2 separate regions of the Homo sapiens genome follow, and region 2 is reported to be linked to region 1. Evidence: microRNA targets listed by miRTarBase, many of them from high-throughput screens and not tested one by one. Region 1 holds a microRNA gene; the other region holds the end of a gene's coding sequence.
The links. Region 1 holds the annotated microRNA hsa-miR-1183 (CACUGUAGGUGAUGGUGAGAGUGGGCA, at 8,289-8,315, opposite strand). A microRNA usually pairs through its seed, bases 2 to 8, with sites in the 3' UTR of a target mRNA and lowers its output. Matches are read on the target gene's strand: a 7mer-m8 pairs with bases 2 to 8, a 7mer-A1 pairs with bases 2 to 7 and ends in A, and an 8mer does both.

Region 2: the mRNA of HECTD1 is a reported target of hsa-miR-1183. Seed matches in the 3' UTR shown: 7mer-m8 at 6,912-6,918.

Annotation. Positions count from the first base shown.
Region 1 is chr7:21,463,167-21,479,419 of GRCh38, reverse strand. MIR1183 (microRNA 1183) reads right to left here and starts at 8,362; the gene lies at 8,274-8,362. It overlaps SP4 (Sp4 transcription factor), which reads right to left. Exons shown (of 6, transcript NM_003112.5): 4 at 2,113-2,341.
Region 2 is chr14:31,093,652-31,109,904 of GRCh38, forward strand. It overlaps HECTD1 (HECT domain E3 ubiquitin protein ligase 1), which reads right to left. Exons shown (of 43, transcript NM_015382.4): 36 at 15,746-15,947; 37 at 13,916-14,053; 38 at 12,995-13,602; 39 at 11,939-12,017; 40 at 11,732-11,825; 41 at 9,265-9,415; 42 at 7,529-7,673; 43 at 6,466-7,416. The coding sequence ends at 7,279. It overlaps AP4S1 (adaptor related protein complex 4 subunit sigma 1), which reads left to right. Exons shown (of 6, transcript NM_001128126.3): 6 at 1-2,799. Among named protein-coding and RNA genes, the nearest start is that of STRN3, 75 kb to the left of the region's middle.

The DNA of each region.
Region 1 (16,253 bases):
GGGTGCCAAGAACATTCAACGGAGAAAGGACAGTCTTTTCAACAACTGGTGCTTGATGAACCCTTACCTAACACCATACGTAAAAATTAACCCCAAATTAATCACAGACCTAAATGTAAGAGTAAAAACTATAAAATTATCTTAAAAAAAAAAAACAACTAGGAATCTTAATGACTTCGGATTTGGCAATGAATTCTTAGATACAATACCAAAAGCAGAAGCAATAAAGGAAAATAGAAAACTCTAGACTTCAAAATTAAAACTTTGGTGCAAAGGCACTATCAAGAAAGTATACAGACAATTCACACAATGGGAGACAATATTTTTCTTTTTTCTTTCTTTTTTTTTTTTTGAGATGGAGTTTCGCTCTTTCACCCAGGCTGGAGTGCAGTGGCGCGATCTCGGCTCACTGCAACCTCCGCCTCCTGGGTTCAAGCAATTCTCCTCCCTCAGCCTCCCGAGTTGCTGGGATTACAAGCATGCGCTACCATGCTTGGCTAATTTTGTATTTTCAGTGAGACAAGGTTTCTCCATGCCGGTCAGGCTGGTCTTGAACTCCTGACCTCAGGTGATCCACCTGCCTTGGCCTCCCGAAGTGCTGGGATTACAGGCGTGAGCCACTGCGCCCAGCCAGGAGACAATATTTTCAAATTGTATATCTGATAAGGAATTTGTATGTAGAATATATAAAGAGACAATTCCATAATGAAAAATAAATAATATAATTTAAAATGGGCAAAAGATCCAAATAAACATTTCTCCAAAGATACAAACATGGCCAATAAGAACAAGAAAAGATGCTCAATATCATTAGTATCAGTAAAAACAAAACTGCAGTGACATATGACTTCACTAGGATAGCTTTAATCATAAAGTCAGATAATGACAAGTACTGGCAATGATCTAGAGAGACTGGAACCTTCATACCCTATTGATGGAAATGTTAAATGGTACAGCCACTTTGGAAAACAGTCGGTAAGTTCCTCAAATGGTTAAACATAGAATTACAATATGACCCAAAAATCCATTTCTAGGTAATTTCATATAAATACAAGAGAAATGAAAACATATGCCCACACAAACAGTTCTACACAAATGTTTACTGCAGTATTATTCATAACGGCCAGTGGGTGGATAAAACCAAATGTCCTTCAATTGACAGGATAAACAAAAATATTGTATATCCATAGAGTGGAATATTATTTGTCCCTAAAAAGGAATGAAGTATTGATCATACTGTAATATGGTTGAACCTTGAAAACATTATGCTAAAAGAAACCAGTCACAAAAGACCATGATTCCATTTATATGAATTGTCCAGAAAAGGCAAATCTATAAAGACAGAAATTAGTTGTCTAGGATGGAAGGATTGGGATAAGGGGGTGATGCTTAAAAAAGATACAGAATTTATTCTGGGGATGATGAAAACACTCTAAAATTGATTGTAGTCATGTCTACACAGCTCTGAATATATTAAAAACCACTGAATTGTACACTTTAAATTCGTGAACTGTATGGTGTACGAATGAGTTTTATATCAATAAAGTTACGTAAATATTTTATGAAAAAGAAAAAAAATGGGCTGGGCGAGGGGGCTCACACCTGTAATCCCAGCACTTGGGGGGCTGAGGTGGGTGGATCACCTGAGGTCAGGAGTTCGAGACCAGCCTGGCCCACATGGTGAAACCCCGCCTCTACTAAAAATACAAAAACTAGCCGGGTGTGGTGGCGGGCACCTGTACTTAATCCCAGCTACTCGGAAGGCTGAGGCAGGAGAATCGCTTGAACCCGGGAGGCAGAGATTGCAGTGAGCTGAGATTGCACCACTGCACTCCAGCCTAGGCAGCAGAGTGACACTCCATCTTGTTGGGGTGGGGGAGGGGTGGGGAAGAAAGAAAAAATATTTTTTAAAAGTGTAAGGAACAAGGCGGAGGACCGCTCAAATTTCATTCCTAAAATAGCCCAACTTAATTCCCTTTCTAATATTATATATCAACTTCTAGGCTACAAAGGTAATGAAGTTCTAGTGACCATCATTCCCAGCCAATTACTTGGTTTTAACTGCTGTTTTATGCCTTCCAAATAGACACAGTTGAAAAATACAGCATTTACCTTCCTTCTCCTTCCCTACAATTAGGACAGGAACAGGCAACTCTTCGAAGCCTCTTGCCAGGTTGTACCTCTTGATCAGAAGTCTGCTGGCCTTGCTGCAAATGCACTTGTGTGAGTTGGTCAGGACTAACAGCACCTATCGTGGCATTAGCAATTCCTCCAACTGCTACAGTTACAGGAGCTATAGTAGCTTGCTGGACTTTTACTCCATCTTGTCCTTGCTGCTGACCTAAAAAGGAAGAAAAAAAAGAAGTATTGTAATGTTTTCTACACCTAAAGAAAGGATTAAAAAAAAAAATCTATGTGCATAATAAATTTTTTCTAACAATCTGTGTAAAGTACAAAAACTAAGGGGTTAATGGCTTATACTATGTCAATCCTTCTAAAATATAGTATTCTTACTTTAGTGGCTCAGGTTGCCTATGTATCTAGATAACGGAACTATATACATACATCATTTAACTCACTTTGTGGCTTAATTTCTCTCTCCATCTGTAAAATGAAGATAATACTTGCCACTTACCTACTCACTAAAATACTATGAGGATACATGAGATAGTCTAAAAGCATTTTGAGATCCTAAAAGATGTTATATAAACACAAAGCTTTATTACCATTTCCACGGTAAGCAACATATCTTATCATAACAAGAAAATACAGGAGTGAAAAGTCACTAAACAAAGGATTAAGTTTTATGGACATCTTGCATTCCTAAATAGTTTAAATAAACATCTCTTTATTGATTCGACTTTTTTTAGTGTATACATAAAGTGGTTTTTGAAATGCAAAACCACCCAAGATTACTACATACTGTCACTGTAATCATAAAAAGACATTTAAGATATTATTACTTTATTCATTCATGTTATATAGCTTAGACTTCATCACTCAGATTAGTATATATACCAGCTTGGCTTCTTCACTTTGGGAAAAATATAATAAATAATGCACAATAAAACAACAATAAAAAAATCTATTGGCATGGCTTAACATTATCCTGAAATACAATGCTTTTTTTTTTTTTTTTTTTTTTTGAGATGGAGTCTTGCTCTGTCGCCCAGGCTGGAGTGCAGTAGCACGATCTCGGCTCACTGCAACCTCCACCTCCTGGGTTCAAGCAATTCTTCTTCTTCAGCCTCCCTAGTAGCTGGGATGACAGGCGTGTGCCACCATGCCCAGCTAATTTTTTTTGTATTTTTAGTAGAGACAGGGTTTTGCCATGTTTGCCAGGCTGGTCTCAAACTCCTGACCTCAGGTGATTCACCTGCTTTGGCCTCCCAAAGTGCTGGAATTACAGGTGTGAGCCACCGTGCCCGGCCTACAATGCCTTATAATTATCTTTTCTTTCACACAGTTCTACATTCTCTCCATCAGGTGTGGGAATAACAAGTATGTGAATGGACTGAAAAGAAAATACCAATTTATGAAAGAATGTTTCTACCTCAGAAAGTTGATGTAAGTATTAAGTAAATTTACAAATCCTCTACCAGAGTGCTGGCACGGAATTGCTCATTACATGGTAGCTACTGTTACCAATTCATCTCTGCTGAGTTCAGTGGCAATACAAGAATAAAATATGTCACTTTGGGAGGCTGAGATGTCAGATCACAAGGTCAGGAGATCGAGACCATCCTGGCTAACATGGTGAAACCCAGCCTCTACTAAAAATACAAAAAATTAGCCGGGCGTGGTGGCGGGCGCCTGTAGTCCCAGCTACTCGCTACTCAGGAGGCTTAGGAAGGAGAATGGCATGAACCTGGGAGGCAGAGCTTGCAGTGAGCTGAGACTGTGCAGCCTGGGCGACAGAGCGAGACTCTGTCTCAAAATAACAATAAAATATGCTAGCAGAAACAAACATACCGGTCCTGCATACAAAATAAAAGGGTTTCTTTCAGGCCAGGCGTGGTGGCTCAGGCCTGTAATCCCAGCACTTTTGGAGGCTGAGGCAGGTGGAACACGAGGTCAGGAGATGGAGACCATCCTAGCTAACACGGTGAAACCCCATCTCTATTAAAAATACAAAAAATTAGCCAGGTGTGGTAGCACACACCTGTAGTCCCAGCTACTTGGGAAGCTGAGGCAGCAGAATCGCTTGAACCCGGGAGGCAGAGGTTTCAGTGAGCCGAAATTGTGCCACTGCACTCCAGCCTGGGCGTCAAGAGTGAGACTCTGTCTCAAAAAAAAAAACAAAAAACAAAAAACAAAAAAAGGGTGGGGGAGGTTATTTCAAAGCTGCACATGTAGTACCTTAAATGTATGGGGCAACCAAGAAGAGGCAATAAAAAGTACCAAGTAAGAAAACAGTACACATTTTCTAAACAAAATTAAACCTCTGACTCTCCCAGCCAAAGTCAATCTCACTCTCCTCTGCGTATCCACAGCACCGTTAATCCTTCTGGTAGCACCCATAACTAACATGCACATTAAAAAATTTATTTTGTCACTGTTTTAGTAAGGATACAAACCCTCTACTAAAATTTACATTTTTGTACACCTTTGAATTAGCATGGTGTGGTAAGTAAAGCAATGCAAGTGAAGTGAGAGTTGTAAATTTATGACTGTGCACTCAGAGATCCTCAGTTTCCTCAACTCTAAAATAGTAACACTGACTTCCATAAAATTTCTGCTCCCTATCTACTTTAAAGAGCTGTTCCTGAGGATCAAGTTGATTTTCCAGGGGTAAAGGCTATATAAATTATAAAGCAATACATAAACAAAAGGTATAATTATTTTGTTTCAGTGTTTTTGAACATGTATTCAGTAAAACTAGATGGCTTAAGGATGACCTTGGCTACAAAATCTATTCAAACTACTTGTGTACCAAGAAGCACAGTGATACACACACTTTGTTTACTGCAAAAAATGCATTTCTAGAAATGAGAGTACTGTCTGAACAAGCACTATACAAAATCTACAGCATGGTCCCTATGGAGCTGCAGGTATTTTAAGTTGGTAAGTACCCTTTACATCCCCTGAAGACACAGGTATTTTTGGCCGTGATTCTCTGACTACTTTTCTCATAACATTTATATAACAGTCATTACTTTAAAGGTCGCAATAATATTTAAGATGACCTTTATTTTGGTAAAGAACTGCTAGATGAGTTTCAAGTCAAAGCTAAGTCTGGGGGTGAGGGGTGGGGAAGAACTGCTAGAGATTCCTGATCCCTCTGGTCCCCTGACCATGTCCTTGACACACTCCTCAAGCCTCCATATTGTGAGCATTTCTTTGTTCAATGCCTAAACAACTTGGAAAGTTATTTCAATGAATAACAGAGGCAAATTATATTTGAGTTTGTATATTGAAGCCCGTTAATTGACTTCATCTAGATGTTTCACAGACAGCTAAGTTCAACATACTGCTTTATTTCCACTGCCATCAGTAAGCCACCAAACTCCAGAGCAAGACCTCCGAGGCCCCACTTAAGTTTAATTCTATTGACTTCTCAGAGCTCATCTCTATTAGTCTCTCCCTTGCTCACTCTGCACCTGATATACTGGCCTCTCTTCTGGCCCTCAAATAAATCAAGCTCATTTCCTTCTTAGGGACTTTGCATATACTCTCCAGTCTAAGTGGGGATGCCTTTGCACCCAGATCTTTGCATAGTTGATTCCTTTGTAATATTCTGGTCTGAGTTCAAATCTCTCCTCTTTAGAAATGCCATTCCTGACCATCCCATCTAAAAGCTCCCCTCAATATATCACTGTATCATCACCTAGTTTTGTCTTATTTGTCTTAAATTACTTTGTCCTTTTATAATTTGGTCTTCACCTCACTTCTGAAGGTAAAGTGCCATGAAAGTAGGGATCTTGCCTATTATGTTCACTGCTGTATCTCTAGTACCGTAACAGTGCCTAATAACTCAATAACAGTGCCACTCAATAGCATATGCTTAATAAATCAAAGTTTAAAAATAAAAAATGATTTCATCTTCCAGTCTTGCTTCTGCTAATGTCCCTGTTTCAGTAAATGCTACCCCTATTCTCCTTGTTATCCACACTGAAAACCTTAAAATGTCATCTTTTAGGCTACTTCTTTACTCATTACATCCAGTGATGACCAAATTTTGAAGACACTACTGCCTAACAGCTCTTACGCTAACCTGTTTCCAAGCAAGATTATCATCTTGATCCAAGCCCTTGTTCAATCTGTGCCTCTACCAACCTAAATTGAGCTTTCCCTCCTTTCTCATCCTTCACACTGCTGCCAGAAAAATAAAAAAGTAGTGTTCTGATCATCTCACTTTCGTGCTCAATAACATTTAATCATTCTTCCACCGACCAAAGTCTGGCATTCAAAGCACTCTACCACAAGGACTTACTCAGCTCCTGGTTCACAGTCTTCCTTCTAATGACCAAATCTATTGTGCATTTTTTCAGTGACCATTACAGGACTGCTCTGCTGCATTTGACACCACTCGCCACTCCATCCTTATTCAATTTTGACTCTGTGAGCTAACTTCCTACATTTCAGAAACCCCTTCTTCTCTGTTAGCTCCTTTTTGTTTGGTTGCTTTTTTTTTTCTTTTTTTTTAAGAGATGGGGGTCTCACTCTGCTGTTCAGACCAGTCTTGAACTCCAGGGCTCAAGCAATTCTCCTGCCTTGGTCTCCCAAGTAGCTGAGATTACAGGCATGCACCACCATGCATGGCCTTAGCAATTTTTTAAAATCAGCACTTAAATCTAAATTTATGTCACTTTCTGAAAAGATTTATCAGCCAGGTGCAGTGGCTCACACCTGTAATCCCCGCACTTTGGGAGGCCGAGGCAGGAGGACTGCTTGAGCCCAGGAGTTCAAGACCAACCTAGGCAACGCAGTGAGATGCCATCTCTTAAAAAAATTAAAAAATTAGCCAGGCATGGTGGCATGTGCCTGTAGTCCTGGCTACTCATGAGAATGAGGTGCTGAGGTGAGAGGATCACTTGAGCCCTGGGGATCAAGACTTCAGTGAGCCGTGATGGCACCACTGTACTTCAACTTCAGCCTGGGTGACAGAGAAAGTCCCTCTCAAAAACAAACAAACAAACAAACAATCAAACAAAATACACCCTCTACTCTTCCTAGGCCACTCTCCAGGGTTCTGACTTCTCATTCTAACTCTCTTCTTGGGGGACCTCATCTACTTTCATAACTTTTACTGCTATGTGTAAGCTGATTAACTCACAGATCTGTGCCTTCCACTCAGAAGTGTCATACTCTTACTATCAACTGCCAGTGAACACTTCCACCTGAATCCTCACAAGCAATCTAAGAACCAGATAGCTTAGCCCACTTTCCTAATATAGCTCTTTTTCACCATTCAAATAGAAAATTTGGAAGTCATTCTTGATTCCTCTCTATCTCCTTCACCCTGACAACAAGAGCAACTATTGTTTTATATCTACTATGTGGTAAGGCACTTTACTGGATGTTTTCCATATATTGTTTCACATCCCTATGGGCTAAATATTACTGTCCCAAATTTTTATTTTTAATAAATGGAGTCTTGCTCTCTTGCCCAGGCTAGAGTACAGCGGCACAATCATGGCTTACTGTAGCCTCTAACTCTTGGACTCAAGCAATCCTCCTGCCTCAGCCTCCTGAGTAGTTGGGACTACAGATGCATGCCACCACACCTAGTTAATTTTTAAAATTCTTTTAGAGATTATGTCTCACTATGTTGCCCACGCTACACTCAAACTCCTGACCTCAAGTGATCCTCCTGCCTCAGCCTCCCAAGTAGCTGGGACTATAGGCACAAGCCATGGCACCCAGCTTACTGTCCCAATTAAGATGAGAAAACTAAGGTTCTCAGGGGTATGTAAAACATCCAAGATCCTAAAATGGAAAAGTGACAGAGCTGGGATTTGAACCCACACTTATCCAACTCAAAAAGCTATTCTCTTTCCACCATATACATTATCTATGTTGATCATAAGTCCCTGTTAAGTCTACCTCTTCAAAATATCTCAAATGTCTCCATTTTCACCATACCTATTGCTTGTACACTAGTGCAAGCCCTTATCACCAGTTTTGCCCCTTCTAATATTCATATTGCAGACCTAGCTCCCCAAAAAGCCAATGGGCCCTCCATACATTCACAATAAGGTCAGTATTTCTTAGCATAGTACATAAAGTTCTTCATGATCTAACTCCTGCTTAGTTTTATAACTTCATCTCTTGGCACTCCTGCTCCATGCCCACTCTCACCATCACCTACAGTGAACTCCTGTCTTCTCTAATGTTCTGTGTCTCCGAGCATTTGAATAATATAGCTGGAATCCAACACATTCTCCCACCCCAAACCTCCATCTCCCTTGGTCTGACAAAAGTCTATTCATCTTACAGATTTTAGTCTTTAATCCTTCTTACCAATGAAACTGCTTTGTAAAATAATTTTTTTAATAACTCAAAATTTCTTGGTATTGTAACTACACATTATGGTGAAACAGACTGAGGATGGCCGTTCTTTTATTTTTCTTCCACATTACCAGAGGTAAAACATTCCAAGGCTGCTTGGAGCAGCCAAGCCATCTTTCTTATTCCTTTTTTGTTCTGCTTTTTTTTTTTTTTTTTTTTCCAAATATAGAAACTGGGCCAAGGTAATGGAGGGGGACAGTTTGTTGGTAGGTAGTAAGACATCTGAATTGCTAACTATTCAACAAGATCTAGCTTGTTGGACATTTCTTGCTCATTTTCTTTTAGTACCAGTAGTTTTTTGCCTTAGTAGAGTAGTAAAATTTGAGACGACTTGAATTTAAGCTAACACGTAGAAAGGAAAGTCAGGTTTAGCTGGTAAAGGAAAAAGGCATATTCCATATAGAATAACCTAGTTCTCTGGATTGTGAGGCAGGGGCCTATGCCTAAGCCAACAAATTCTAACTTGAATTTTGGTATACCTAGCTCCCTAAGGGATCTCAAGAATTGGTTGAATTAGAATTTAAGTATTTCTGGTCTTACTAGTAAGACACCATCTCACTCCATCATAATATTAGTCATAAATTATTTCCAACAAAAGCTGCTCAAGAAAGAGGCCATCTGTGTGGTTTTTATGTCATTTGTCCTTTGGCTACCAAGGTTCCTGACACACTGAAAGTACTTAATGAATGTTTCTTAAATAAAGCGAATGATAATCTAAAATCTATACAAACATAGAAGCTTTCTTACGAAACTCGGCCAGCAGTATATCACAGGGCTGCTAAATGACAGCTAGTTTACAATACACATGCACATGGGTGACAAGACAGTAAGAAACCAAATCAAGTGGATATCTGCTACACTTCCTCCCTGACTCACTGATATGGCAGTCAGATCATTTAGAAGCAGATCCCAGAGCATAACTCTCAACCTTGGTTCTGAAACTATGTACTACTCTCTCAGGTATCAGATTTCTCCTATGACATTTGCTATCTACATTCAGCAAGGTGTTTTTTTTTTGAAAAGAGTATTATAAAAATATTAACTCTAAAAAATTATAGGCCCAGCATGGTGGCTCATGACTGTAATTGCAGCACTTTGGGAGGCCGAGGTAGGTGGATCACAAGGTCAGGAGTTTGAGACCAACTAGTCCTAGCCTGGCCAATATGGTGAAATCTTGTCTCTACTAAAAATACAAAAAAATTAGCCGGGTGTGGTGGCGGGCACCTGTAGTCCCAGCTACTTGGTAGGCTGAGGCAAGAGAATCACTTGGATCCGGGAGGCGGAGGTTGCAGTGAGTGGAGATCTCACCACTGCACTCCAGCCTGGGCGACAGAGCAAGACTCCGTCTCAAAAAAAAAAAAAAAAAAATTATAACTAAACTTGCCATTTAGGGAATAGGCTAAGATTTCTCCCTTTCTACCTATTTTGATGAAAATAAATAGTTTAGTATTACAAACACATACACTTTAAGTTTCTTTTTCTTCTGATTTTAAGAACAAAGCATGCTCACCATAGAAAACTATGAATGAGGAAATGAAATCATCCAGAAAGTAATTACCCATAGATTACCACTATTATCATTTTGATGTGATGATCTAAGTTCTGTTTTAATCTTTGTTCAATGTATTTTGATGCTGATACAACTTTACTATATAAAAATTCTGTATTATCCTCTTTTACTTATTTAGTAATATAAGTACTTCTAAGTTATTAATATTACAAATTATTTTAATAGTTGTGCAATATTTCATCATATACCATAATTTACAAAGCCATTACTGTACTGTTAGATATTTATTTCCAAATACTTATTATAAGTAACATAAAGTAATGAGCAACTTGAACTAAAATATTGTTTATTATTTCCAAGGGATAGTCCTAGAAGTGAGATTACTAAATCAAAGGACATGAAACATTTGTAAGACTATCTAGATTATAAAATTACAGGAGTATATATAAAGAGCTGCATTCATTTACATTTCCACCAGAAGTATGGGAGAATGCTGTTTCATCTCATGGAGCATGAGAAATTCAGTAAAATGTATAAAATCATTTAATAAACAAAAAATTGGATATCTCACTGTAGTTTCTAATAGAAGTGATTACTGCTCTCACCTCTAATACTGTACATTTCCTTAAGGTCTAAGCCAATGTAGTAAGGCAAGAAATAACAGATCTATATAAGAAATAAAGACTTAAAAGGAAGTAACGAAACTGTCATGATTTACAAAAGATATAATTATATTACTTAGAAAACTATAGAAAAATCAACAAATTATTATAATATGACATCTGTACATCAGCGAGATGGCCAAATACAAGAGCAACATAAAAAAGCAACAGTTCCCAACCATATCAGCAACAAACAATTGAAAAAGAAAAAAAAAAAATTCCATTCATAATAGCAACAATAACCACAAATATCTGAGAAATCAATCTAATTAGTAATATGCAAGATCTTGAGGAAGATTTAATAAAGGATATAAAACAAGACCTCAAAAGAGAGAAATATATGTTCTTGGATAGGAAGAATCATTAAACTAAATGTGTCAATTCTTCCAAAATTATTCTAGGAAGTGAATGCAATCACAAATTTAATTCGAAACTTTTCCATGAAAGTCTGCTAATTTGACATGTGAAAAATCAGCTAAGAAAAGTCTGAAAAAGCAGAATAGTAGAATAAAGATATGTAGGTAGCTACAGTAATTAAAATAAGGTGCTGTTAGCTTAGGAATAGGGACAGAAATGAACACAATTTAAAACAGATGCGTGTGTGTACACAAAATAATCCAACTGTGCCTTATTTCTTCTTTTGGAAAAGACGATTTGCAAGGTTTTTTCTTATAGTAAATAGTAAGTAACATTACTCTGTAAGTAAGACAGATCCGCAAATTTGAAAAACAAAACTATTTATCTATCTACCTATAAATAAACTCACCAACCAATAAACTGAAATTGACCTATTTAATAATAATCATACAGCAGGTTCAAAGTACATGTGTTTCTTAATTATGTTTTGTGCATATAACCTAGGGAACAAGGTTTTCTAATATAACTGATCAGGAAAAACAAAAGCTGTTGATTTCTATGATACAAAACTTGCCATGGGGGGCAGTGGGATTTTTTCTGTTCTGAATAATACTAAAATGATTCTTAACTGAGCCTACCTAGATTGACTTCCTTTACAGATTAAACTTGGAATCTGCCTAAGAAAATGTCTAAGGTCCTCTCAAAAAATATGTCTCCTAACATTGCAAATAACTTTCAATAAACACACTCTAAAATAGGATTTGGTTTACATAATGATCTGACTTAAAATAAGCAAGCAGGATGTATATTCCTAAACATAAAAAGATAACCAAATATGCTTAGGGCTGGGGAGGATAGAAAGGAGAAATGGGGAATGACTGCTAATAAGGGTTTCTTTATGAGGTCATATAAATGTTCTAAAACTAGATTGTGGTGATAGCTGCAAAACTCTATCAATATACCAAAAGCCATTGAATATACACTTGAAGTTGTTGTATAATATGGTATGGATATATATAAATAAAGTTGTTTTTTTAAAGGTAACTAGATTTAAAAAAAAATTTTTTTTTAATTCTACTTTTGTTGGCTCTAAGTACCTTTAAGCCAGTGGTTCCCAAATGAAGGTAATTTTGCCTTCCAGGAGATACTCAGCAATGTCTGGAGACATTTTTGGTTGTCACAAAGTGTGAGATTACTGGTATATAGTGAGTAGAGGCCTGGGATGCTGCTAAACATCTTACAATGCACAAAACAGACCCCAAAAACAAAGAATTACCTGGCCTAAAATGTCAATAATGCTGAGATTAAGAAATCCACTGAAACTCAGCACTGGAATAACTCAACTAACATTTATGCCTCTCATTCATATCATTATAAACAGCTATAACAAAACATATGAAAAATTAAAATATGGTACATTTGTGTGATCCCTATAAAAACTACATGAGTCTCCACAAAAACAGAAACTATATGACTGAATTAAAGCCTTTGAAAAGAGAGCTACATACATTTGGGAATAGGCTGTGACAGTTTTGACAGACATATGACTAGAGAGATTCCATGGTACACTGGTGGTAAAAAAAAAAAAAATCCTAGATTTGAAAATTATGCTTATTAATTACAAAATACTTCTTTGCCTTATGGAAGAGCTTCAATGACATGTTTTCCTGTAGATGAACTATAAATGAAAATATTAAGAAATAACCGAGTACCTTCTGTATCTCTTAAATGAAGGTGAACCCCATTAGCCAATGACTTCCAGGACTATCAACATACTATGGGTTATGTACAATCTGTGAACCAATATTGAGTTACTGAACAGGCGCAACAGTTTAGTAGAGCCGAAAGTAGAACTTTTGGGTCAAGCAGACCTGTTTCTGAGTTCTGATTCTCCCTGCAGTTTCTTCCTTTGAGGACCTGGGAGCTGTGGGAGTTGACTGAAATAGTGTATATAGCACACGTCTTAGCATAATGTCTGGAATATGATAAACACTCAAGAGGAATGTTAACTCCAGTAAAACAAACTGCAAATGTATTAAGTACAAATACTTAACAGCCATTCACATTTCCTTAAGTCCTAGCACTTTGGATGTGGACTTAGTATAGAAGTGAGATTTATTCATACAGCAAACTTCTACTGAGTACCTGCTATGTGCTTAATGCTGCTGGAGAAATGATAAATAAGATCTGACCAGAAGCCCTCACCTGTAGGGAAGACACACTCAAATAAATAATTATAATATGCACAATAACAAAAATGTGCATAAAATGCCTACTTAACAGAGAGGACAGTGATTTACTGTCAAAAAGAAACAATGAAGGCTTCACAGAGGAGATGAATCCACTGACAGGTGGAAAGAATAAAGGCAAATGGGAAGGCAGTGGGAAGGCTATATTTAAAGACATAACCCTGAGACAGCATACCACTGGAGATTAAAGTTCAAGGAGGTGAGGGGGCTAAAGATAGGGTTGGAAGGATAGATCAGGAAGGGCCTTAATTAAACCTTTTTTTTTTAAGAGACAGGGTCTTGCTCTGTTGCCCAGCCTGCAGTGCAGTAGTGCAATCATAGCTCACTGTAATCTCAAACCCCTAGGCTCAAGCAATCATCCCGCCTCAGCCCTCTCCAGTAGGACAACAGGCAAGTGCCACCATACCCAGCTAAATTTTTTATTGTGACAAGGTCTTGCTATGTTGTCCAGGCTGTCAACTTCTTAAAGAAGGGACTTTCTAGGGTAGGAGAGAGGGAATCCTTGTTAAGGTATTATGCCCATCCTTCCCATCCCCAATCCAGAATACCTGCCACACAATAATCACTCGCACTTACTCAATTTACTAAATGGCTATAATCGAACTAAACTATTTTACACCTATACTTTGTCTAATGCTGTCTTCTAAGATTTGGGGAGGTTATGCATATTTCCCAAGATTACATAGCTGCTATTAAGTGGCAAAGCTAAGATGTGAACCTAGGTCAGCCTGAATCCAGAGCCCTACACTCTTTTCTGGTTGGCTATATTCTCTCCTTAAGCACTAGGATATTATTTGGACTTTGCAGGCAACAGGGAGTTAGAGGTAAACACAGTAACACCTGTCTATCAATTCTGATGCTTGAAGGTATTGCTCTTTTGAAACTCCCTGAGCTAGGAAGGAAAGGCAACTCTAGTCATTTGGTGTTGGAGAGAAAAGCTTAGGAAAACAAAGATATACACCCTCTTTGGTACCTAGTTATTTCTATTTATTCTAATCTTGCTCCAGATAACTGTCAACTATTCTCAACTCTGTTTATGTTGAGGAAATCCTTCCTAGCCGGAAAACCCTAGAAAGATATGAATACTTTCTTTAAACAGAATTTGCCATATTTAAAACAAAACAAAAAAAATTTTCTAATTTTCCCTCATTCTACGTTGAACCATACTTGCCTAAGTTGATGGTGAAAAATAAATCAAAAAAGGAAAATCTGGCTAATTCTATGTGAAATTGTAAATAGTCTTAAAAAGTTTTAAAGCTACTTCCGGTCCTTTAGATGTACAATGAGTCACCATAGTAGTAATGCATTGCTATAGCCTCTATCACCAACTTTTATTCTACATTGGGCTCTATTACCTCTTGACAGTTTTTATAACTTGAAAAGTCTGCAATTGGAAGCCTATGAAGGTTGTGAGGAAGCTTGGCACAGTGGTGCACACCTGTGGTCCCAGCTACTCAGAAGGCTGAGACTGGAGAACTGCCTGAGCCCAGGAGTTTGAGTCTAGCCAGGGCAACACAGTAAGACCCCATCTCTAAAAAAAAAAAAAAAATAGAAAATAGATTTTTAAACAAAGATTGTGACAAACGGAGCAGGGGTGTATCAGATCTCAGTTTTAGGAAAACTCTGAAATGTCAAGAACAAAATAAACATGTGAAAACGTAGAGGCAGAGATACCAGTTAGGAAAGAAGCTATTTTACCTTCCAGATCACGAGGCTCTGAAAGAGAGCCCTGACTGGCCGGGCGCAGTGGCTCACGCCTGTAATCCCAGCACTTTGGGAGGCCGAGGTGGGCGGATCATGAGGTCAGGAGATCGAGACCATCCTGGCTAACACAGTGAAACCCTGTCTCCACTAAAAATACAAAAAATTAGCTGGGCGTGGTGGTGGGTGCCTGTAGTCCCAGCTACTCGGGAGGCTAAGGCAGGAGAACGGCATGAACCCGGGAGGCCATGCACTCCAGCCTGGGTGACAGAACTAGACTCCATCTCAAAAAAAAAAAAAAAAAAAAGAGAGCGCCCTGACAAGGGAATGAATCAGATATAAGAATAAATAATAATTATCATAATAAATAGTTGCTAGCACTTAGTGAAATCTTTTCTGTGTTCTAAGCACTGTGCAAAGTACTTTACATATCTTATCCCACTAAAGTAACATGATTTCTGCCATTTTACAGATGAGGACAGTCAGACCTAGAGAAACACTTGATCAAGATTTAAGTGGCTAAACTAAGACTTGAACCTTAGAACTATAAACTTTTAAGATAATTAATTGATAAAGATCAAATAAATCTATAAGTATTCTAATTTGAGTGATGATGATCCCATTAACAGAAATAGGGGAACCCCGGAGAGGAAGCAGGTTTGGAAAAAAAATCAGTTCTACATTCAGATGTCTCCTACAGACACAACCCAGCTCAAACTCTGTCTTCAACTAGAACTGCTCTTCCTCCAAGAAGTCAGGCTTGGCACTATCTCTTCTCCAACCACGATATTTAACTTCCTGTCCCTTTCACTCCGTTTATTTTTGAACTCAATCTTCATCCTCACTTTGTTCCCTAGTTATGTGGACACACTCTCAATCCAACCCTCCTCTGGCTTCGCTTAGCATCCGTGGTAATCCCTTGTGTCTCGCTGAACTTCTGCCACACCTGATGGTAATTCTTATCATCCACTTTCTGGTGTTCTTAGGCTGCTAAACACCAAGGAAAGAGATTACAGGAGGGCTAATAAAGCCCTAAACTTTACATTACCTGAGCCATCACTGTTGCTTGGTAACCTTTCATTCATCCTATGCTGGCAATGTACATAGCCCTTCATTGGCTGTTCCAATTTTTTTCCCTCTGTCCTCAAATCCTCATTCCCCTTTCCTTGCACCTTACAATCTGTAGATGATTTTGCCTCCTAATTTACTGAGAAGTCACCCAAAAGTATCTTTATTCTCCCTTCTATTATCAGCATCTGACTG
Region 2 (16,253 bases), not on the chromosome of region 1:
GGCCAGGCTGTCTCAAACTCCTGACCTCAGGTGATCTGCCTGCCTCAGCCTCCCAGAACGCTGGGATTACAGATGAGCCACAGTGCCTGACTTCTGAAGGCTGTCTTATTCCTTTAAAAGGCTTAGTAAAATTAACTTTTTAAGAGGTGTTTTTTTGTTTGTTTTTTTGTTTTGTTTTTTAAGACGGAGTCTTGCTCTGTCACCCAAGCTGGAGTGCAGTGGTGTGATCTCAGCTCACTGCAACCTCCACCTCTGGGTTTAAGCAATTCTCCTGCCTCAGCCTCCTGAGTAGCTGCGACTACAGGCATGTAGTCCCCAGGAGACTGAGCTGTGATTACAGATGTGAGCCACCATGCCCTGCCCGGTTTTATGTAAAGCCCAGCTAATTTTTGTATTTTTAGTAGAGATAGGGTTTCACCATGTTGGCCAGGCTGTTCTTGAACTCCTGACCTCAAGTGATCCACCTGCTTCAGCCTCCCAAAGTGCTGGGATTACAAGCATGAGCCACCATGCCCAGCCAAGAGGTGTTTTTTGTTTGTTTGTTTTTAAGAGAAGCAGGTCTTGCTGTGTTGTCCAGGCTGGACTGCAGTGGCTTTTCACAAGCATGATCATGTTGTACTACAACCTTGAACCTTCCTGGCCTGGCTCTAAAAGCTTTGTAATGTGGGGCTGGTGCAGTGCCTCACACCTGTAACCCCTGCACTTTGGGAGGCTGAGGAAGGAGGATCGCTTGAGGCCAGAAATTCAAGACCAGCCTGGGCAACATAGACCTCATCTCTACAAAAAATGCAAAAATCAGCCGGGTGTGGTGGCACATACCTGTAGTCTCAACTACTCGGGAGTCTGAGGCAGAAGATTTCTTGAGCCCAGGAGTTCGAGTCTGCAGTGAGCTATGATCGTGTCACTGCACTCCAGCCTGGGTGACAGAGTGAAACCCTGTCTCAAAAATAAAAAAGTCCGAGTGCGGTGGCTCAGGCCTGTAATCCCAACATTTTGGGGGGCCAAGCCAGGAGGATTGGTTGAGCCCATTAGTTCAAGACCAGCCTGGGCAACACAGCAAGACCATATCTCTACAAAAAATAAATAGGTGTGATGGCTCATGCCTGTAATCCTAGTACTTTGGGAGGCCGAGGCAGGCAGATCACTTGAGGTCAGGAGTTTGAAACCAGCCTGGCCAACATGGCAAAACCTTGTCTCTACTAAAAATACAAAAAGTTAGCCAGGCATGGTGGCAAGCACCTCTAATCTCAGCTACTCAGGAGGCTGAGGCAGTAGAATTGCTTGAACCCGGGAGGCAGAGGTTGCAGTGAGCCGAGATCATGCCACTGCACTCCAGCCTGGGCGACAGAGTGAGACCCTGTCTCTAAAAATAAGTAAATAACTAATTAAAAAGTTAGCCAGCTGTGGTGGTGAGCACCTGTACTCCTAACTACTCAAGAGGCTGAGATGGGAGAATTGATCAAGCCTAGGAGTTTGAGGCTGCAGTGAACTATGATCACAACACTGTACTCCAACCTGGGTAATGGAGTGAGGCCCTGCCTCAAAAACACAAAAACAAAACAAAAAAACTTTTATAACATGTACCTAACAAAGATGCAGAGTTAAATTTTATTTGCCAGTTTGTAAAAGCCTTTGATACTCATTTTAAGGGCACTTAGTAATTACAATGCCATTATGTAATTAACTCTATAGAGAACATTACTTTCAAATAATGGATGGTCAGACATTAAGACAGCCCCAGAGAGCCCCTACAGCTATCCTTTATCCCGTTTTTTGTTTGTTTTTTGGAGACAGCATCTCCGTCTCCTAGGCTGGAGTGCAGTGGTGTGATCATGCCTCACTACAGCCTGTACCTCCTGGGCTCAGGTGCTCCTCCCACCTCAGCCTCCTGAGTAACTGGGACCACAGGTGCGCACCCCCTCCACCCAGCTAATTTTTGTATTTTGTTGTAGAGATAGGGTTTCACTATGTTGCCCAGACTGGTCTCGAATTCCTGCAGTCACATGATCCATCTGCCTTCGCCTTCCAAAGTGTTGGGATTACAGGCCTGAGCCACTGTGCCCAGTCTTTTTATGCCACATTTTAAAAGGTTTGCTTATTAATAAGCTTACTGTTAATGAAATTTAGTTCAAAGTTTAAAAGTAGAATGCAGCCAGGCATGGTGGCTTACGCCTATAATCCCAGCACTTTGGGACGCCAAGGTGGGTAGATCATTTGAGGTCAGGAGTTCAAGACCAGCTTGGCCAACATGGTGAGACCCTGTCTCTACTAAAACTACGAAAAATTAGCCGGGCATGGTGGCACGCGCCTATAATCCCAACTACTTGGGAGGCTGTGGTAGGAGGATCACTTGAACCCAGGAGACAGAGGTTGCAGTGAGTTGAGATCGAGATTGTGCCACTGCACTCCAGCCTGGGCACAGAGTGAGATTCCGTCTCAAAAAAAAAAAAAAAAAAAAAAGTAGAAAGCAAGAAAGTGTCTCTGTACAGGTAGGCATGAAATGAATCCTTCTCTTCCTCCCCTTTACTCCTTTAACCCCTTCTCCTGCAATGTCTTGAAGTAAATTACTGTCATTACAGAAGAGCAATGCACTGCATCCCCCCAAAACCTTTCTATATGCTTTTGCTACCCCGTTAACAGAAGAATATACAGAACTGTCTTAGGCGAAAGTATGTACAGTAGTCCCTCTCTTATCCACTGTTTCGCATTCTGTGGTTTGTGTTACTCATGGTCAACTGAGGTCCCAAAATATTAAACAGAAAATTCCAGAAATAAACAATGTATAAGTTTTAAACTGCATGCCATTCTGAGTAGTGTGATGAAATCTTGCACCATCCCACTTTGTCCTGCTCTGTCCCGCTCCGTCTTGCCTGGGAGGTGAATCGTCCCTTTGTCCAGCATATGCATGCTGTATACACTCCCCACTTGACAGTCATTTGGTAACTGTCTTGGTTACCAGATGGACAGATCATGAGAAGAGTGAGTACAGTGCAATAAGGTCTTGAGAGAGACTACATGCATATACATATATATATATAAAATTATTTTTCGTTTTTTTTTAAAGACAGGGTCTTGCTCTGTTGCCCAGGCTGCAGTGCAGTGGCATGATTACGGCTCACTGCAGCCTCAACCCCTTGGGCTCAAGCAATCCTCCCATCTCAGCTTCCCAGGTAGCCGGGACCACAGGTGTGTGCCACCCCACTCAGCTAATTTTTTTTATTTTTTGTAGAGACAAGGTCTCCATATGTTGCCCAGGCTAGTCTTGAATTCCTGGGCTCAAGCGATCCTCCTTACCTCAGCCTCTGAGTGCTGGGATTACAGGTATGAGCTAACACACCTGGCCATCTTTTGTTTTGTAAGAGATGGGGTCTCTGTTACCCAGGCTGGATTTGAACTCCTGGGCTCAAGCCATCCTCCTGCTCAGCCTTCCAAGTAGCTGGAGCTATAGGTGCACACCACCATGCCCAGCTTTCACATAACTTTCTTATATTGTAATAATTGTTCTATTATTGTTGTTAATCTTACTGTGCCTAATTTATAAACTTTATCATAGGTATGTATGTATAGGAAAAAACATTCTCTTTCTCTCTCTATATATAGGATTTGGTACTATCCTCAGTTTCAGATATCCCCAGTTTCAGATATCCACTGGGGGTCTTAGAACTTATCCCCCAAGAATAGGGAGGTCTACTATATATATGCATGTAGGGGTGGGAGGTCAGGTGCAATGAAGAAAGTAGAAATCTTTTTCCTTTAAATATAGAGACGGGGTCTCACTATGTTCCCCAGGCTGGTCTCAAACTCCTGGGCTCAAGCAATCCTCTCACCTCAGCCTCCCAAAGTGCAAGAATTACAGGCATGAGCTACCCTGCCCGGCCAAAGTCTATTTTTGGTATATTAAGATACTGTCCCAGCCTATGGAATGATCCAATAGTTCATTCTTCTGTGACACTCCAGCCTCTAAAATAGGACATAAATGCATTTTTTTTCTTGAGACAGTCTCGCTCGGTTGTCCAGGCTGGAATACAGTGGCATGATCTCAGCTCACTGCAACCTCTGCCTCCCAGGTTTAAGCAATTCTCCTGCCTCAGCTTCCCGAGCAGCTGGGATTATAGGCGTGTGCCACCACACTGGACTAATTTTTGTATTTTTAGTAGAGATGGGGTTTCATCATGTTGGCCAGGCTGGTCTCAAAACCCTGACCTCAAGTGATTCGCCCGCCTTGGCTTCCCAAACTGCTGGGATTACAGGCGTGAGCCACCACGCCTGGCCAAATGCACGTTTCAGAGTTATCATTCAGCACTGTTCCGTTTGGTTTGTCTGTGTATTGTGGGGGGTAGGCAGTGGAGCTTTTTTTTATCCTGTTCTCAAAATCCACTTGCAATATCAAGGTTTATGTCTATAAAAATGCAGTCAGTCAATAGTGGACTCCAAACCTGAGTTGTTTTTGGACTCGTTCAGGAAGGCAAAAGGAAGGCTTCTGACCTGTGGGAACAGTGAGTGGTCTGTGTGTACAGATACACCTTTGTATCAAGTAGCCAAGGTCTGGGGAAAGCCCAGCGTAGACCGAAGTGCTATGGAGGGTCTTTCTCAGACACATTAGCTGGGAAACACTGTCCTAGTTGGTAGGTACTTCATCAGTTGCACATTCAGGTAACTGCTGAAACTGGTACACCAGAGTAGCTAGGGAGTGAACAAAATTAATTTTTGGGTCACACCAAAATAGTAGTTGAATTACATCTCGGCACAGATTTTAGAACCTTGAGAGAATAACAGTTAAAAAAAATAGTTGGTAGGTATCATAGGAAACAATATTTAAGAACTTACAGTTGAGGTGGAGACCCCGGTAGATGTCTCAGAACACTTGACTCATGCATATGTGTTCTTACAGGCTGTGTCGCCATATAACTTCACTAAGATGCTTTAAGTGACTTTTCATACTTATATTTGGCCAGCCTTACCTTGTTCTTGGACTTTTTCTGAGGAAGACTCCTAATATTTCAAAAACAGCTATGATTTTATATAAACTTTTTGTTTTTATTTTTTCGGAGACAGAGTTTCGCTCTTGTTGCCCAGGCTGGAGTGCAATGGCACAATCTCGGCTCACTGCAACCACTGCCTCCTGGGTTCAAGCAATTCTCCTGCTTCAGCCTCCAGAGTAGCTGGGATTACAGGCATGTGCCACCATGCCCGGCTAATTTTTATATTTTTAGTTGAGACAGGGTTTCACCATGTTGGTCAGGCTGGTCTCAAACCCCTGATCTCAGGTGATCCACCCTGCTCGGCCTCCCAGAGTGCTGCGATTACAGATGTGAGCCACCGTGCCCTGCCCTATTTTATGTAAAGTTATCAATTTATCTGCTGTAGCTACCTGCCAGACCAGGGTTCAGCAAGCTTTTTCTGTAAAAGGCCAAATAGTAAATATTTTAGGCTTTGTGGACCATATGGTCTCTGCTAACTACTCAATTCTGCCATTGAAGTGCAAAAGCAACCATGTAAATGAATGTACGTGGCTGTGTTTATTTGTGGACACTGAAATTTAAATTTCATAATTTTCACATAAAATATTATTCTTTTGATTTTTTTTCCCCAACAATTAAAAAATTTTAAAGCCATGCTTAGCCATGAGCCATTCAAAAACAGGCAGCAGGCCATAGTTCGCTAACCCTGGTGCCAGGCTAGTCTTGGTAAAAGCTGACTACTGATAGACATCTTAGAGACTTGTAATTATAGCAGAAGATATCTCTCATAGGCAGAGAATTTGCCTTTTAAACAGGTCGATACTGGGCAATTTCAAACATGCTTTTGGTTCCTTAAAAAACCATTTGAGCCAGGTGTGGTGATACACATCTGTAATCCCAGCTACTCCAGAAGCTGTGGTGGCAGGACTGCTTGAACCTAGGAGTTTGAGACCAGCCTGGGTAACACAGCAAGAGCCTGTCTTTAAGAGAAAAAAAAAAAAAAAAAAAAGCTATTTGGCTAAATCAGGCCTAGTGTCTTTCCTTTCACCTATAAGCACAGATATGGTAATAACTGGAATTTGGAAAATCTACTTTGGAATTTGGAAATACAGTCCCTTCTTCAAAACCAGAAAACAGCGGTATCCCCGTGTTTTGACACACAACATTTAAAAATCATTCTTGGATCTCACTTACATCCTTACTTATATATCCTTATAGATACAATAGTTAAGTTGTGGATCTGGTGTTTTTTTAAAAAAATAACACAAGTAACTGGTCAGTTCTAGCTGAGGCATACTTTAAAACTGAACCCAACCATTGGATCACAAGTGTGTGAATATATATTTCTTCTAGCCTTTCAATTTTAATACCCGTATTTACTATAGAAAAACACATTTCTTTATGTAGTAATTTCAGAAAACTTTGGATGATTCAAAATGACAAGTACCTGCTAAAGCTCTTAAGTCTGATGACTGCATTGAAATAGTCACATGACACAGTTCTGTACGCTGCAAACATTTTAATGATTATTGTTGAGCATACATTTTGGAAATTTTTTACTTCAAACGGCAACAAGTTAAATAAATGTTTATAATATACAAAGAAAATACAACCGAAAGTAAAACTCGCTGTAAGTGTGCCTTGCACTTAGACCAGGTTTTCCCCCCTTAATACATCTTTATTTTTGAGCTGCAAACACACTTAAGACTTTGATCTTCATAGTATGGCATTTAGGAAATAAAAATATACTCCCACCTTAAAGAAATAAAAAGTTTGGTGCATGATTATATGCCAAACAAAGAGAGAACACTAGAATACTCTTGATAGTGCAGGCATCATTAAAAAGGAAAAGAAAAAGCTTGAGATGCTCATTAATTCTCTATGTTTTAAGGAAGCAGGATTTTTGACCAAGTAGCTTAAAAGCCAGCAAAACAGGGATCAGTGACAGCAACTGTAGTGTATGGAGTATGAAATGACAAACTTTACACAAATACACTGTTAGAAATTTACCAGTGAACACTGAAGATCTGAGAAGCTGCTCTTTGGAACAGTCAAGTGGGACCACCTTATTCCAGTCACATAAGCCCTTGTAAAGTAACACAGTGTTCTGTGCTATATACTTGCTGGCTGGGTAGTTACAGGATTTGTTTTGTCATTAGCAGCTAAAAAACTTATTCCACATGTTCTTAAAGCCTTAATGGTGGAAAAAAAGGCAAGTGTCATTAGCATGGTGGATCATATACTTCTCTGCACACAAACACAAGAGGCTTCACTAGTATTTTTAAAGTCTCTGATGTCTCCCATTGCACTTCAAAGCTCAATTGAGATGAAAGCCTTTCTCCATTGTAGCAGCTAGCAGGCGCTCTCTCATGATCTCCTCGGAAGAATATTCAGGCAACTTAAGGTAATGCACACATGTATTGACTGATGGATAGCTTGCATCAGTAGCATCAACCTACAACAAGAAAGCAAACACAACAGAAGACCATGAGTTTAAATACTTCTTTCTTTCAAAAGTAAAGTAACTAAATTTCATTTGGATTCCCCATTAGCCAGAGAGCTTGTACCTTGCGTACAACCGTGAGCCTGGGATGCAGGTTAGCCAGTCCACCTGGGGGTAGAGTTGAACAACCAGTGGTAAACTGCAAGAATGCTTTCCTTTCATCAGAAGACATGCCACATAAAACCCTCACAAACCTCAGGAAACCAGGGCTAAAAGAACAAAAATATAGTTATATTGAGTTGACTGCAGATTTAAATGAAAATCACTACCACTATTTTCTAAGGCAGCAACAAGCCCCCTAAAAAACAATATCCTCACACCAGAACAACAACACATCTAGAGACTCTTGGTTAAGTATGAAATGGGCTAATATAAGCTACTTTAAAAATATCCCGGGCCAGGTGTGGTGGCTCATACCTGTAATCCCAGCACCTTGGGAGGCTGAGGCGGGTGGATCATCTGAGGTCAAGAGTTCAACAGCAGCCTGACAAACATGGTGAAACCCCATCTCTACTAAAAATACAAAATTAGCTGGGCGTGGTGGCGCACGCCTGTAATCCCAGCTACTTGGGAGGCTAAGGCAGGAGAATCGCTTGAACCTGGGAGATAGAGGTTTCAGTGAGCTGAGATTGTGCCATTGCATTCCAGCCTGGACAATAAGAGCGAAACTCCATCTCAAAAATAAAAATAAAAATCCCTCAAAGACTGTCTTGAACTTACAAATTGTAAGAACTAAAAAATACTGACAGTGTATGGGGTCCATCTATTCTGCAACAAAGTCAGCAAATCATAAAAACACAGGATGCACTTGCAAAATCATTTCAAATATGGATAAATATACCAAAGGGGATCTGAAATAATTTTTATTCCAGCAAAATAATTATCTTGTGATAAATTTATGTAATGAAATAGTAAATGAACGACATGCCACAACATGGATAAATTTCATAATCATAATATTACTCAAACCAGACCACAAAGAAAACAGACTACATGATTTCATATATTAAAAGTTCAAAAGCAAGCAAAACTGATCAACATATGGTGATTAGATTAATAGAAAAGAATATGGTGGGAAGGGGGATTTTTGAAGTTGTTTCATATTCTGGATACCAATTATACAGGTGTGTTCATTTTGACAAAATCCTCTAAACTGTATATATGATGTGTGTACTTATCTGTTATATTCAATAAAAAGTTTAATATAAACGTAGTATATAGCCCAACAGCTTACAATTTACCAAATTTTAAAAATGAACAATTAAAACACAATGAGGAAAGGAATCAACATCAGCCATGATGTCAGTTGTCTTTTTTTTTTTTTTTTTTTTGAGACAGAGTTTCACTCTTGTTGCCCAGGCTGGAGTGCAATGGCATGATCTTGGCTCACTGCAACCTCCACCTCTTGGGTTCAAGTGATTCTCCTGTCTCAGCCTCCCAAGTAGCTGGGATTACAGGCGTCTGCCACCACGCCCAGGTAATTTTTGTATTTTTAGTAGAAACGAGGTTTCACCGTGTTGGCCAGGCTGGTCTCAAACTCCTGACCTCAAGTGATCCGCCCGCCTTAGCCTCCCAAAGTGCTGGGATTACAGGTGTGAGCCACCGCGCCCGGCCTGCTGTCAGTTGTCTTTTTGTATCCTCCCAGCCTTATCAGTGGATATGCATTCTGGTAACTGTGAGACACCACTGCTTTCTCACTTACTTTATGATACTCACTGAATTAAAGTTCTTTAGAGAATCTGTCATTTGATTTGGGGAATATAAATAATTTTGTTGATCTTGGAAAATAGTATCACATACCTGTCACGTGTATAACCCAGCTTAGGTTCAGTGTAATTGATAATATCCTCTGCTGCCCAGGATGGTGACTGGTTTCCACAAAGAATCATTTGGACTTCTTCATGGCTGAAGGAACTTAATTTCTCCATTGGAAAAACTTTATTAAACCCATCTACATCGTACATGTAACGGAAACACAAAAAACAAACATACAACTCAGTTTCCAAGTTACGATTCCAAAATACCAAATTTCAAACCAAAATACCCATTATCAGAATCAATCTAAGTATCTATCAAGGGATGAATGTGTAAAGAAAATGTGGTATATGTACACAATGGAATACTATGCAACCATAAAAAAGAATGGGCTGGGCACGGTGGCTCACGCCTGTAATCCCAGCACTTTGGGAGGCCGAGGCAGGCAGATCATGAGGTCAGGAGATTGAGACCATCCTGGCTAACACAGTGAAACCCCGTCTCTACTAAATATACAAAAAATTAGCCGGGCGTGGTGGCGGCTGCCTGTAGTCCCAGCTACTCGGGAGGCTGAGGCAGGAGAATGGCGTGAATCCAGGAGGCGGAGCTTGCAGTGAGCCGAGATGGCACCACTGCACTCCAGCCTGGGACTCCAGCCTGAGACTCCGTCTCAAAAAAAAAAAAGAATGAAATCTTTTCATTTGTAGGAACATGGGTGGAACTGGAGGTCATTATATTAAGTGAAAAAAGCCAAGCACAGAAAGACAAGTATCACATGTTCCCACTCATATGTGGGAACTTAAAAAGTTGATCTTGGCCGGACAAGGTGGCTCACACCTGTAATCTCAGCACTTTGGGAGGCCGAGGTGGGCAGATCACCTGAGGGTGGGAGTTCGAGACCAGCCTGACCAACATGGGGAAACCCCATCTCCATTAAAAATACAAAATTAGCCGGGTGTGGTGGTGCATGCCTATAATCCCAGCTACTCGGGAGGCTGAAGCAGGAAAATCGCCTGAACCCAGGAGGTGGAGGTTGCAGTGAGCCGAGTTCGTGCCATCACACTCCAGCCTGGGAAACAAGAGCAAAAACTCCGTCTCAAAAAAACAAAAACAACAAAGTTGATCTCATAAAGGTAAAGAAAAGAATGGTATCAGAGGCTGGGAATGTTGCATGTGGGGGTGGATGAAGAGAGGTAGTTTAATGGGTACAAACTTACAATTAAATAAAAGGAGTAAGTTCTAATGTTTTCTAGCATAGTAGGGTGACTATAGTTAACAATAATATATATTTCAAAGAAGCTAGAAGAGAATAATTTGAATGTTCCCAACACATAGAAATGATAAATGTCCAAGATGATGGATGTCCTAAAGACTGATTTTATCATTACACATTCTGTGTATCAAAATGCCCCATAAACATGTACATATATTATGCAACAATAAAAAAATACCCATTACCGATGAAATGGACAGAAGATGAATATTCAACATTCATAAATGTTTGAATAAACAAGCATAAATTAAGACAGCTTGAAATTAAAACTGTATTTTAAATTAGAAATCCCTGCTTAACATCACAAACGTGAACAGAGAGAGAACATTCAGTTGCTATGGTCAGTATGCAAATTCTTATTACTACTCAGTCTGGAGTTCACCAGCTCTTTCTGTCATACAAGTCAGGCAAAACTGTGTTCTCATTTTCAAAAGTAATTTACCTTGTAATATACTTTGTTCCCATCATGATTCTTTCATGTTAATTCATCCTGATCAAGTAATCTAGAATGTATGCAACCTATGTCCACTTTCTTTCTTTCTTTGTTGAGGCAAGGTCTCCCTCTGTTGCCCAGGCTGGAGTGCAGTGGCACAAACATGGCTCACTGCAGCCTCAGCCTCCCAGGCTCAAACTATTCTCCCACTTCAGCCTTGCAGGTAGCTGGGACCACAGGCACGTGCCACCACATCTAGCTAATTTTTTAAAAAATGTTTTGTAGAGATGGGGTCTTGCCATGTTGCCCAGGCTGGTCTTGGAACTCCTGGGCTCAAGCGATCCTCCTGCTTCAGCCTCCCAAAGTGCTGAGATTACAAGTGTGAGCCACCACCACACCCGCACACCCGACCACCATCAATTCTTTTTTTTTTTTTTTTTTTTGTGCAGCGGAGTTTTGCTCATCGCCCAGGCTGGAGTGCAATGGTGTGATCTCGGCTCACCGCAACCTCACCTCCCGGGTTCAAGCAATTCCCCTGCCTCAGTCTCCCCAGTAGCTGGGATTACAGGTATGCGCCACCATGCCCAGCTAATTTTGCATTTTTAGTAGAGACAGGGTTTCTCTATGTTGGTCAGGCTGGTCTCGAACTCCCAACCTCAGGTGATCCTCCCGCCTCAGCCTCCCAAAGTGCTGGGATTACAGGTGTGAGCCACCGTGCCCAGCCGACCACCAGCAATTCTTGACCATAATTTCAACTGTCTCAAAGTGAAAGGAGAGCAATTATGCTAAAAATCCTTTAAAATTACCTCTAAAGGCTTCCATTTGTTTCTGAATACCCGTATGCATACAAAAGTCAAACATCAAATCCACATATTCTTCTGCATTATCCATTGTTATCATCTGCAAAAGAAAATTTGTCAGTATCTAGGAATATTTCAGGAGTGTCTAGTACAACTGGCCTTGCTAAGAGGATATGTCAGAACTTACAACTATATTAAAAGCAAACTTTTTACCTCATCTTCACCACTTGGCTTGAGATCCACAGCTGTAAAACCATATATTCTTGAGGAAGGGCAAAACTGGAAATTTAAACTGGGAGGACAAAAAAGATTAAATTAACTGACATGCAGCTACTACTAATGGTGTTTAATTTTTATAACATTACTATCATCTGCCATCAGTGGGTACAAGAGAAAAAATTAAATAAAATAACATGGCTATCAAAACCATAAATCCCACCCCTCTCCTCCTCCAACAAAATCAGTACACCAGCTTAGAAGTAAGTTGAGGACTTTTTAAATGCAATATTCTATGGACAAAATCTACTAGGCCAACTGTTATCAAATCTGTCTGGCTTTGCAAAGATTGCATGAAACCACCTTTCTATATTTTACTTCTAACTTATGGCACAAAATTAATGAACTAAAAATTTTGCAATGAATTATGACAGCAACATGTTTGTAAGACTTTTAGGAAGAAACTGTTGCTTTACTGAAGTCAATCACGCTGTGTACAAAAATATATATTAAAAAAAACCTTGAATATATAACCATTTATCAAACACAGTTTACCAACATTATCAGCAAACATTAAAAAAAAAAGGCCTTGCAGTTAACCTAAAATCACAGCTGAAGATATGATAATTACCTGTACATAAAGTAACAGAGTTTTATCAAAAGTTCTGCAGCATCTCAACTGCTACAGCCTTTGGTGATAAAGCTGACATACCAACCAATTTTTGAGCTTTGCAAAGTGAATCATATATTAGCAGATGAATTTGTCAAAATATTGTTGGCTCTGGACATTTTACACAGGCATATAAATTCACATTGGCTAAGTCAGGTAATCTTCTAAAGGTTTGATGATTAATAAACTAATATTCTAGTATTCTGAGTGTTGTCTTTATAATATTAAATCAAAGGTTCAAGTCGATCATCAATATTTCCTACAGCATATTACTGTTTTTGACAGACTATTTACTCATATATTGCAAATCAGTGACGACAAAGAAACAAAAGCTTTAAAACTTATTCATGCATTGGATTGAAGAATGTACATATAATGCTTACCCTAAATCCTCTATGCTAAGTGGAGGCCCAGAACCTGATGGATTCTTCAGCACTAGTTCCTGTAATTTTGTGTTCTTCTCATCTTCAGAAAGACCTTTGTTGCTTAAAATTTGGCGCCTCTTGATAGCAAGGTCTTTAATTTCTTTTAAAAATCTGGCTCTGTGTGGGTTTACTAATTCAAAGTCTTCCCAAGTCAAAATTCCATTAAACCAAGCTGGGGGTTTTGGTTTAGGGGGATCAAGAATAAATTCTGATTTTGAATCCTCTTCAAAGCTTCCTACCGAGAGTGAATCATGACCTTCTTCTGTAGAAGCTTCAGACTGACTTTCAGTACAGTGTAAGTCTCTATCACCTCGTGACTCATAAATCAGTTTACTCATATTGCTTTTAATGTCACCCATACACATAAGTTTAAAAAAAGGTTTAGAAATAGGTAAGTCCACAAGTCTATTGTCTTGAATGCATTTGGCCAAGAAAATTCCAAGGAAATGAAACAGTTTCGTGATCCTTTCAAGCTCATCACTATCCTGTGGAAATGGTGCTGTGAACAGTCCACATGACCTCTGCACATAATATCCAGGAGGTTTCAATCCACCTCCAAGATCAACCTAATTTTTTAGAGGGTGAAATGCAAATAAAATTAAACAAAAGTTAATAGAAACTAAGCCTATCATCATCTAAGAAAAAAATCCATAAACATTAAACATCTTCATGAATTTGGCTATCTAAAAGTATATAATTTTATTAAATAGCTTTTGGTGACTAAATTTTATCGCTTTAGAACTATTTTAATTGCATCAAGATTATTCAATAATAAAAGTAGAGTCAGAAACCTGGCTTATGCTCTGAACACATAACCTATTTTTAACACTTTTGAAAGCAGAGTCACAACTCAAGTCACAAAATGAGAAATATTCTTACGTGACGAGATTCATCATCTGGAAAATTATCATCACAAAGCCAAGCTCCCAAGTCAGTTCTCTGGAATTCTGCTGCCACCAGAGCATAAAACTCTAATGTGGGTCCCAAGCCAGTTCCTTCTTCTCCTAAAAATTCAACCTAAAATATGAACAAATAAATTGTGGGTTAAACGTAAAGTTTGGGGTGTTTTTAAAAATAATCTAATTCTTGTCAAAATTTATCATATCTGATCCAGTAATGTACCTTTTTTCAAAATAGCAGTGTATATATATAATAAACAGCACAGAAGTGTTATTTTAATTTTCCTAAAGAGTCCACTTGTTGTACACTATTACATGCTTAAGCACTGTGCCAAGCATCATTCATACATTTACTTCTCACAACAACCCTGCAAAATAATTATTTCCTTTTTACACCAAAGGAAACCAAATCTCAGATAAGGAGGTTAAATCATTTGCTTGAAGAAATGATGGTGAACAGACTTTTGTGTGTCTCTGTGTGACACCAAAGCCTAGACTCTTCCACTTTTTAATTTTTATTTTTTGAGACAGTTTCACTCTTGTCGCCCAGGATGGAGTGCAGTGGCACGATCTCAGCTCACTGCAACCTCTGCCTCCCGGGTTCAGGCGATTTTCCTGCCTCGGCCTCCCAAGTAGGTGGGATTACGGCATGCACCACCATGCCTGGCTAATTCTGTATTTTCAGTAGAGACAGGGTTTTACTATGTTGGTCCGGCTGGTCTCAAACTCTTGACCTCAGGTGATCCACCCACCTCAGCCTCCCAAAGTGCTGGGATTACAGGCATGAGCCACTGCGCCTCGCCTCTTCTGCTTATTTCTGAGTTAAAGACACTTTAAATCATTTTTGCAACAGGAAGAGTATGGACAAAAACCCTTAAAGTGATTGCATAAAGTATAATAAAAACTACAGCATATGGTTAAAAAAAAAGATTATCTATATTAGAAGAATGTAAACAACTGGGCATGGTGGCTCAAGCCTGTAATCCCAGCACTTTGGGAGGCCGAAACGGGTGGATCACTTGAGCCCAGGAGTTTGAGACCAGCCTGGGAAACATAGTGAGAACTTGTCTCTATTAAAAAAAAAAAAAAAGAAGAAGAAGAACATAAGGGTAGGAGGAATACAATGAAAGTCTGTATATAAAGTGAAAGATGTAAAGCCTTGGACATCTTCTAGAGATGTATCATATTTCTTGCAATTAGTTTATGATCCAAAAGTTAAAAACAAACCAGTTGGATTCACCCCTGTGACAGGAGACGTATTTCCACTCTTCCTCATATAGGGAATACTGTGTATATGAAATAAAACCAACAATGTCCACAGTAACATTTCTAAACTAAATATATTAAATGTCATACTACCATTTGCTATAACATGTCTCAACACAGACCAGTGATATAATACCAAGCACAATTCAAGTGAAACAATATTACAAAACCAGGTGCTCCCAAAATATCAAACAGCACAGTTTAATGTAAAAGTAAAAAAGAATCCCTTGTGAGTACTACTATTTTAGTCCAACTTTGTTATGAAATGGGTAGAAGCCCTCAAGCAGAACAAGCACTTTGCCACCTCAAGAGTGGAGATCTTCTTTGTTGCTCATTAATGGCACAAGACCTAACCCCTAAGGAGGTGGACTGACATCCTCTTATGAAAAAGATGCTCTGCCAGAGGAGAAGGCTTCTGCCTACAGAACAGGAAAACCCCTCTTCATGTTTACCTACCACAGTTTTTAATGCAGTGAAGATACACATTGGGCTGGTTCCCTAAGTGTCATTCCTGTTCCCTAAATCTAATTTTATATGAGATTACCTCAAGAACTGATTTCCGATCTGCATGTATTTGCATGACATTCTCAGCCCATTCCATCAGTGACTCGCCACGTGGAACTTTTACTCTTTCATGCTTGAGACGACCAACTCGAAACTCTCCAGGGTCATCTCGCCTAACACTGCTTGTGGTTCTCGTTCGCTCCACAGTGGCTTCACGTCGGTTCTGTAACCATACTATTGCTCTGAAATAGAAAAATATCTATGAGCTGCAGCATACGTTAACAGCTGAATGTACTACTAAACCAGCAACAGAATTCAAAGATTTAAGAAATTAAAAAATAGTATTTTATCAGGTGATTTTTAAAACACAGTAATCTTTTTTTGTTACATAAACTGCTTCCTGTCACAAGTAAAAATATATGAAACTCCTTTTATTATAATCTGCCTTAAGCAAACTGAGAAAGTACTGGGTCTATATTTTGCCTCCTTATTTTAGCAGTTCAATAAAAATAATAATCTGTTGTCCAAGCCCCAACATCATTCAAAAA